3 separate regions of the Homo sapiens genome follow, and regions 2 and 3 are each linked to region 1. The links come from fine-mapping of genetic effects on gene expression. A gene starts in region 1. Each other region holds a variant in brackets. All regions are shown on one strand. Distances are from middle to middle. Region 1 holds the start of ARID3A (AT-rich interaction domain 3A). Region 2 overlaps ARID3A (AT-rich interaction domain 3A). Region 3 overlaps ARID3A (AT-rich interaction domain 3A).

Evidence for each region.
Region 2: its variant is fine-mapped to the expression of ARID3A in whole blood (TOPMed, PIP above 0.99).
Region 3: its variant is fine-mapped to the expression of ARID3A in blood mononuclear cells (TOPMed, PIP 0.97).

The regions. Positions count from the first base shown.
Region 1 is chr19:924,957-927,707 of GRCh38, forward strand. ARID3A (AT-rich interaction domain 3A) reads left to right here and starts at 1,079. Exons shown (of 9, transcript NM_005224.3): 1 at 1,079-1,103. RefSeq lists silencers at 1-28, 119-1,048, 1,139-1,208, 1,629-1,868, 1,856-2,048 and an enhancer at 1,253-2,013.
Region 2 is chr19:970,193-972,943 of GRCh38, forward strand. ARID3A (AT-rich interaction domain 3A) reads left to right here. Exons shown (of 9, transcript NM_005224.3): 9 at 1,686-2,751. The coding sequence ends at 1,873. Among named protein-coding and RNA genes, the nearest start is that of WDR18, 13 kb to the right of the region's middle. The variant G/A (reference allele first, on the strand shown) is at 1,757.
Region 3 is chr19:974,021-976,771 of GRCh38, forward strand. ARID3A (AT-rich interaction domain 3A) reads left to right here. Exons shown (of 9, transcript NM_005224.3): 9 at 1-1,919. Among named protein-coding and RNA genes, the nearest start is that of WDR18, 8.9 kb to the right of the region's middle. The variant T/C (reference allele first, on the strand shown) is at 1,385.

The DNA.
Region 1 (2,751 bases):
CCGCGCACACAGCTCCCTGCAGAGCACGCGTCCCCCTCCCGACCGCCTTCCTTGCACCCCGCTCGGTGCCTCAGTTTCCTGCTCTGCGCAGTGGCGACAAGAAGGTTGCCAACTACAGAGAGGAGTGAGGGCTGGAGACGTGCAGGGACCTCCCTGGAGGGAGGCGCGGGGCACGTGGTTGGGCAAGCGACCGCTCAGACCGTGTAAGTCATCACCACCTTCACGGGGGGGTGGTGGGCAGCCGAGCTCCCGACGCTGGTGACAGCCGGGCCGGGCAGGGTCGTCCTGGTTTCACAAAGGGGCTCCGGGTCCCAGCGCGCACCTCCCCACGCCCGCGCCGAGCCCCCGTCTGCAGCCCGTCCCTCCCCAGAGGGAGGCCGGCGGGACCCTGGTTCCCTCCCTCCGACGCCGCCCGCCCAGCTCTGCACCGGGTCTTTCAAGCCCATTTCTCAGACTTGGAAACGGCGGCTCCGGAGAGTGAAGTCACTCTCTCAGGGTCTCTCCGTCTAAGGGGCGAAGGTGAAACTCCGAGTCCACGAGGCCCAGCGTAGGTGCTCCGTAAGAAGGGAAGAGACTTGGTCCCGGATCTGGCTCCGATGCCTCCGGCCAGCCCGCCCAGGCGGAGCCCCAGTCAGTCCCCTCTTCTTCCCCCGGGGCGCTCCCGCCCCAGCCCCTGCCCCCGGCACCCTCTGCGCTTGGGGCCGCGTCGCGCACTTTGCCCACCGTCCCTAGGCCGGGGGCGGGGCCTCCCGCGGCGCTGTTCCCCTTCCCGTTTATTATTTATTATCCTTTAAAGGGGCCGCGACCTGAAAATTTCCGTCCACTCTGCCCGGCTCCCCAGCGCCCCCGGGCTGGTTGCGCGTCGTCAGACCGCGGGAGGGGGGCGAGGGGGCGTGCGGGGAAAAGTGGGGAGCCCTGGCGAGGCCCTCCCGCGCCCGGGCCGCGGCGCTGAATCACCGGCCAGGTATTTGCATCCGAGAGCGACTCGTCCCCTGGTGATTTGTCTGGGGGTGGGGGAGGGGCGGGGCGGGGGCCGGCCGCGCGCGGGGCGCCTCTTACCAATCGGGCGGAGGGGTGTAGACGCGGACGCGGCTGGCGGCTCGGTGAGTCGGCGCGCGGCACAGCCCCGTGGGTCGGGGGCCGGGAGCCAGCGGCGCGCACCGGCGGCTGGAAGCCAGGCGGGCCCGGGCAGGCCGACCCCAGGCGCGGGGCGCGCGCCCCACTACGAGCCGCCCTGCGCGGTAAGGCTGGGGAGCGCGCTGGCCGTTCCCAGCGCGGGTTCCGGTGCCGGGGTGGGCGCAGTGCGTCCTGGAAGCCAAAGAAGGGGGTCCCCAAAGTTGGGCGGAGATGTTGGTGGGGGTCCCGGACTGGGAAGGCGGCCCTGGCGGGCTGGGGTTCGGGGAGTTTTCTCTGCACCCCGCTTGGAGACTTCACTCCCCACTGGATCAATCGCTCAGGGGCGAGCAGGGGCGATCGGGGGTCGCGAGTGCGCGCCCCCCCCTCCCCAGCGGAAGGAAATGGTCTCTGCGCGCGCGCGGGGGGCTGCACCCCGATATTTTATTTCATTTTTATTCTTTCTCCCCGAAATCAGGGATTTATTCGGGAGCCCAGAGAGGAGGGAGGGTAGTTCCCGGCGAGCCTCCCCAGCCGGGCTGGTTTATTTATAAAGTGTCCGCCCCAGCGCAGAGAGGGGCCCCCGGGGGAGACACCGCGGCCCCCGGGCGCCGGGGTGGGTTGGGCCCGGGCGCCCGGTTCCTCGGCGGGGATACCCAGGAAGAGCCCCCTGACCCGTTTCAGGGCCCCCCAGACACAAAAGCGGGCGCAGGAAGCGCTGGGAGCGCGCGTTTGTCAACTCCAACGCTCGGCGCCGGCCCCGGGCGGCGGGTTCAATTATCTTCCGTTTTTAGGCGCTCGGGCTGGAGGGGTTCCCCCCCCCATGCAAATCGGCCGCTTTCCAAGAAGCCTTTGAAATCCGGACCAGGGTTTCTGTCTTCTTATTTCTTCTCCTTCTTGAGTTTTTTTCTCACTTCCTCCAGGCCCCCCCAACCCAGGACTTTCTTAGCCCCCTCCCCAGCTTTCTGCCCCGCCCCTCCCCCTCCTCTTCCCTTCGTGGAGTGAGGGGCCCCTTTCGCCACCCGCGGGCCCGGGGCCTTGCACAACTCTTTAAATAACCATGTTTTGCAAGGCCCGCGCCGAGCGGGTGACCTCTCTCCGGAGGCCTGGGGGGAGGAGGGTGTGGCCCAGGATCCCTCCGCCCCCCACCCCTGCCTGGTCCAACGACCACCCAGCGCCCCGTCCCAGCCTCTCCCTTGGGGCTGTCATAAAATGGGGGTGGGGGTCGAGGACAAAGGGCTCTTGGGGGGAGGGGTCTGAAGGGGGTGGGCGTAGCTAGTTTAGGGTTATGGCGGCGATGGGGGGGCACCCAGCCCTGACCTAGGGGGGAATCTGGGATCCCCACCTGCCCCCTCCACCGGCCCCAACGTGGAGGTCTGTCCTGCTCCCCTCCCCCACCCGGCGACCCGGAAGGGTCATTAAACCCAGCAGGGCTCGGAGCGGGCTGGTGGGGGGAGTGGCTTCCTTTGGCCTCTTCCTTCTGTGCCCCCAAAGAGGGGGGGCTTTGCTTGGAGCTCTTCCGTGGGGGGGGCCTTGTCTTGAAGTTGTCCCAGGTGGGGGAGGGGCGACAGACCCGACCAGACCCTGAGTCAGAAATGCCCCCTCAGCACTTTCTTGGGTTGGGTGGGTGGGGGGTGA
Region 2 (2,751 bases), 45 kb after region 1:
ATCCCAGCTGCTTAGGAGGCTGAGGCAGGAGAATTGCTTGAACCCGGGAGGCGAAGGTTGCAGTGAGCCGAGATCGCGCCACCGCACTCCAGCCTGTGCAATGGAGCAAGACTTCGTCTCAGAGGAAGAAAAAAAAAAGAATTAAAAAATTTAATTAAAAAAGTGGAGTCAGTGCCAGGGGCAGTGGCCCACGCCTGTAATCCCAACACTTTGGGAGGCTAAGGAGAGAGGTTTGCTTGAGGCCAGCCTGGGCAACACAGAAGACCCCATCTCTACAAAAGAACATAAGTAAATGAATAGTTTTTCTTTTTTTTTTTTTTTTTTTTTTTTTTTGAGACAGAGTCTCACTCTGTTGCCCAGGCTGGAGTGCAATGGCATGATCTCAGCTCCTGCAACCTCCGCCTCCTGAGTAGCTGGGATTACAGGTGCATGCCACCAGGCCCGGCTAATTTTTGTATTTTTAGATGATACGGGGTTTCACCATGTTGGTCAGGCTGGTCTCGAACTCCTGACTTCGTGATCTGCTGGTCTTGGCCTCCCAAAGTGCTGGGATTACAGGCATTAGCCACCACACCCGGCGGTAAATGAATAGTTTTTCTTAAAGTGGAGTCAGGCCGATGGTTCATAGTGGCCACCAGGTGGCGCTGTCGACACAGAGCAGCCTTGTTGCAGGCCCCCGCCCGGCTGTGGTCAGAGGCTGAGCTGAAGGTCAGTGGTGTCCTCACAGGTCCACAAATGGATTTTTGAGGGGTCCGTGCCCTCCGGAAATCAGATGTAAAACGTGTACATTCATATTGAATCTTACAGGGGAGAAGGCCAACTGTGTGCTAGGGGTCTCGCAACCCCACATCAACGAACCATGGGCATCAGGGTTCTCCCTGCAAGAGCTGTGTGCACGCTGATGTGCATGTGTGGATTAAACACACGTGTGTGCTCACGTGCATCCATATATATGCACATGTGTGTGATGAAGGAGTGAGCAGACACAGTGGGGAAGTTTAAGCTGGGCTCACGTCTGTAATCCCAGCACTTTGGGAGTCAGAGGCAGGAGGATTGTTTTAGGCCAGGAACTTGAGACCAGCCTGGGCAACATATTGAGAGCCCATCTCTACAAAAAATAAAAAATTGCTAAAATATTGCCAGCCACAGTGGCTCATGCCTGTCATCCCAGCACTCTGGGAGGCCAAGGTGGGTGGATCACCTGAGGTCAGGAGTTGGAGACCAGCCTGGCCAACATGGTGAAACTCCGTCTGTACTAAAAATAAAAAATTGGCTGGTGTAGTGGCAGGCGCCTGTAGTTAGTCCCAGCTACTCAGGAGGGTGAGACAGGAAAACTGCTTGAACCCAGGAGGTGGAGGTTGCAGTGAGCCAATATCGCACCACTGCACTCCAGCCTGCGCGACAGAGCGAGACACCATCTCAAAAAAAAACAAAAAAATAAAAAATTAGCCAGACATGGTGGCACGCCCCTGTGGTCTCAGCTACTCGGGAGGCTGAGCTGGGAGGATCACTTGAGCCCATGAGGTTGAGGCTGCAGTGAGCTCTGATGCCACCACTGCACTCTAGCCTGGGGGACAGAGTGAGAGAGAAGTTTATTCCCCGGAGCACCCCATTGGGTCTCCCTTGTGGCCCGCCTCGCATCTTCTTAAACTCTGCATGGCATATGTCTTCTGTTCTTGCCTTAGGAGTTCTGTTTGCTCAGCCGCCGGCCCCCACGCCAACCTCTGCTCCCAACAAAGGAGGCGGCGGCGGCGGC[G/A]GCAGCAGCAGCAACGCAGGCGGCCGGGGAGGAAACACCGGAACCAGCGGCGGCCAGGCTGGGCCAGCGGGGCTGTCCACACCCTCCACATCTACCTCAAATAACTCGTTGCCTTAACCGCATCACTCCCCACCCGCCACCCACCCTGGAGCCCGCCGGCCTGGGCAGGGGGTCCAGGTGGGCCACACAGGGGCCAGGATGGCGGAAGATACGGGTGGGGAGGGAAGATATCCAGAAAGGAGCCACAGCTGACGCCAAAAAGAAAAGAAAAAAGATATATATATATATATATATATATACACGTATATATATAAAGAGAATTTAATAAAACAGGGGAAAACCAAGGAACACTTGAATTTCTCAGGTTTTGGACATTCAGAGAGATGAATTGTGAGAACAGCAAAGAAATCCATCAGAAAAACAGAAAGAGGCAGACGTTTCCCAGGGCGTTCAGGCAGCCCTGATGGACCGAAGGCTCTGGTGTCTGGTTTGGCCCCACAGCAGTGTGGGCCGATCCTGTTTACCTCATACATCCCTGCACTGTGTGTTTTCATTTTTGTCTGCTTTAGTTCTCTTTTATTTTCTATTCACCACACACTCACCACTCCCAGCTTCTCGTGTCCAGTGAAACCCCTGAACCAAGATCACTGAATTTTTGTTTTTTTCTTGTTGCTTTGGGAAATTTTTTTTTCTCTGTAGGGTTTTTAAGAGGTTTCGGGGGTTTTGTTGTGTAAATATTCTATTTTATTCTTGGGGGGATCAAACCTTAGGAAAAGGATATCTATATATCTATATAGCTATATATTTGTGTTCCTTCAGGGAAACTGGTCTTGAAAAAGCAAGAAAAAAAAGCAAAAAAAAAAAAAAAAAAAAAAAAAAAAAACTCACCTTTTTATTTTTCCCATGACCAATTTGGGTCCCTTTGTCCATTTCTGGGGGTGCGTTGGGCAGCTGTGAGCCCAGCACATCGGATCCCTGGGGCTAGAGCCGCGGAG
Region 3 (2,751 bases), 49 kb after region 1:
GGGTCTCTAATTGGGCCCTGGGAGCCCTGTTAGGCCACCGGCATGGGGGCTTGGTGAGGAAGGGGACTCCCCAGCTCCCCCCACTCCCAACCACCTCCCCATTGCCTTGGAGACCCCTGGGGAGGGGGCTGGGGGGCTTCTGAGCCCCTGAGTCTAGGTTCACTTTCCCGTCGGGCTGTGGGAGGGGACTGTCACTTTCCTGTGTCTTTGGGGAGGGGACCCCCACTTCCTTCTCGGATCTCAGGGCCGTGGACACACACCCCCTTTCCAGGAGGGGGTGGTGGGCGTCTAGGTTTTCCTTGTCCCTTCCTGGGGCCAGCACCGTAGCAGCACAATCACCCCGGGAAGGGGGTGTCTGTTTGCCTCCAGACACAATCGGGCCCCACTCGCAGAACCACCTGGACTCTGTCCGTGTCTGTCCCCCGGCCTCCAGGGCTCCTCTCCCGGGACCCCCGTCCCACGCCTGGGCCCCGCGCCGGGGGAAGCGCCTGCTGCCTATCTCTGTCTACCTCAGGTCTGACTTTTGATGCCAAAATCTGAGCCCCTGGGGTGCCTCTCCCCCGCCTCCCGTGCACCAGGGTCTGCAGCAGCCACTGGGGCCTGGCTGCCTGCTGCATCTGGCGGCCCTGGACCCCTGGGGCCCCCGTGCACCTGCCCACCTCGGAGCCTGGGGAGGGGCCGTGCAGGGTCGAGGGCTGGGTCGTCTCCCTCGGGCTGCGTGTGTGTGTCGGGAATCCTGCGTGTCGTGTCTGTGGGCGATCCGGCCTCCCGGCGGTGGGTGGACCTGGATTCTAACTCAGAGGACTTGAGCCTGCTGTTAACTCCGATGATTGTAGGGACAGGCGGGGTGGGTGGGGGGTGGGCGCGAGGCTGGGTCCCGGCCCAGGAGAAGGAAGTCGCTGAAGGCAGTGGCCATGCTGGCCGTGGAAATGGGAGGCGGTTGCAGAGGGTCTATGGGGCCCGGTCCTGGATACTCGGCAGGAAGCCGTGTCTGCAGAGGCTCCTCCCTGCCTCAGGTGGCCCCGTTCAACCCCAGCCGTGCCCATCTCCTGCCACCGCCTGTCGGTGGGGGTTTAAATTCGGTGTGGCTTTCTGGGGTGCAGCTCAGCACCCCCCCTTATGCAGACTGGGAGGGGGTCGGGCAGTCCCCTCAGCCACGAGGACCCTGGATGGGTTCTAGTTCACTTGGGACCGTGGGGCCTGGCTGCGTACTGAGTGGGTGCCCCACAGTCAAGGCCAACGGGGGCTCCCCCTGCTCTGAGATGTTGGGAGAAAGGCGGCTTCTGGAACCTTCCGTGGGACCCGTAAGTGGCTGTCCAGAAAGGCGGGAGGGTGGGCACGGGGCACGGGGGGCAGCTGGGGTCGTTGTTAAGGGTCACGCATC[T/C]GTACAGTTGAATTTCCTTTCTCTTATCATGTTTTACCCACCTTGTCCCTTTTTTCCCCAATTGTGCTTTTGCATTTTTTTCCTTGGCAAATGTAAACTCAGCCTTTCATTCATGACGTGTGAAATTTCAGTTTCTCTGGAGTTTGTCAGACGGCGTGGGAACCACGCCTGAAACTCAGGTAATAGGAGGAAAAAAAAAAAAACTTAAAAAAATTTTTAAAAAACATAAAACTACTCTCTACCTCTGGCTGGGCCCAGCCTGTCTCGCCCTGGCCGCGGCAGGGTGGCCTGTAACAATTTCAGTTTTCGCAGAACATTCAGGTATTAAAAGGAAAAAAAAAAAAAAAGACAAAAAGACCAAAAAAAAAAAAAAGTGTGATTTTGAAATTTAAAAGAACACTGAAAGTTTACATTTTATAGTAACATTATTATGCAGATTGTATTTAAACTTCAGAAATATTTAAGACGATTGTAACCCTGTAAAGCTGATGAGATATTAAAACGAGACAAAACACTTCTGACTTTTAACAGAAAAGTGTCCTGTGGTGTTTTTTTTCTTTTGGCGTCTCCCCAACCTCCAGCTCCACCCTACACCCCTGCCCAGCACAGCCAGGGGTGAGTGGAAGGGGGTGCTCTATCCCCCTCTGCCCTGCATCGCTCTAGGTCTGGTTCCGGGCGGCAGAGACAGCTACAAAAGCGGGGGTCTGGCCAGGTGCGGTGGCTCACGCCTGTTATCCCAGCACTTTGGGAGGTCTAGGAGGGCGGAATCACCTGAGTTCGGGAGTTTGAGACCAGCCTGACCAACATGGTGAAACCCCATCTCTACTAAAAATACAAAATTATCCGGGCGTGGTGGCGCGTGCCTGTAATCCCAGCTACTCCGGAGGCTGAGGCAGGAGAATTACTTGAACCCAGGAGGCGGAGGTTGCAGTGAGCCGAGATTGCGCCACTGCACTCCAGCCTCGGCGACAAGAGGGAAACTCCATCAAAAAAAAAAAAAAAAAAAAAAGCAGGGGTCCTCAGCCAGGGTCTGTGCCCCCAGGGGGACCCTGGTCCATGTCTGGGGGCATTTGTGGTTGTCACGCCTGGGGGGGCGCTCCTGGTGTGGAGTGGGTGGAGTCCTGGGATGCTGCTCGGCACCCTGAGTGCCCAGGACGGCCCCACCGCAGAGAACAATCTGGCGCCCAGCATCCACACTGCAGGAGTTGGGAAATTCTGCCTTCATTATTTAAGGTGGGGTAAAAACAGTTCTCCCTGCCCACAGCAGACACCAGGATAAGCTCCTGACAGGGCAGACGGTGTAAACCCGGGGGAACCCAGCTCCTGGGACTCGCCTCCTCTCTCCCTCCCTACTCAGGGCATGGATT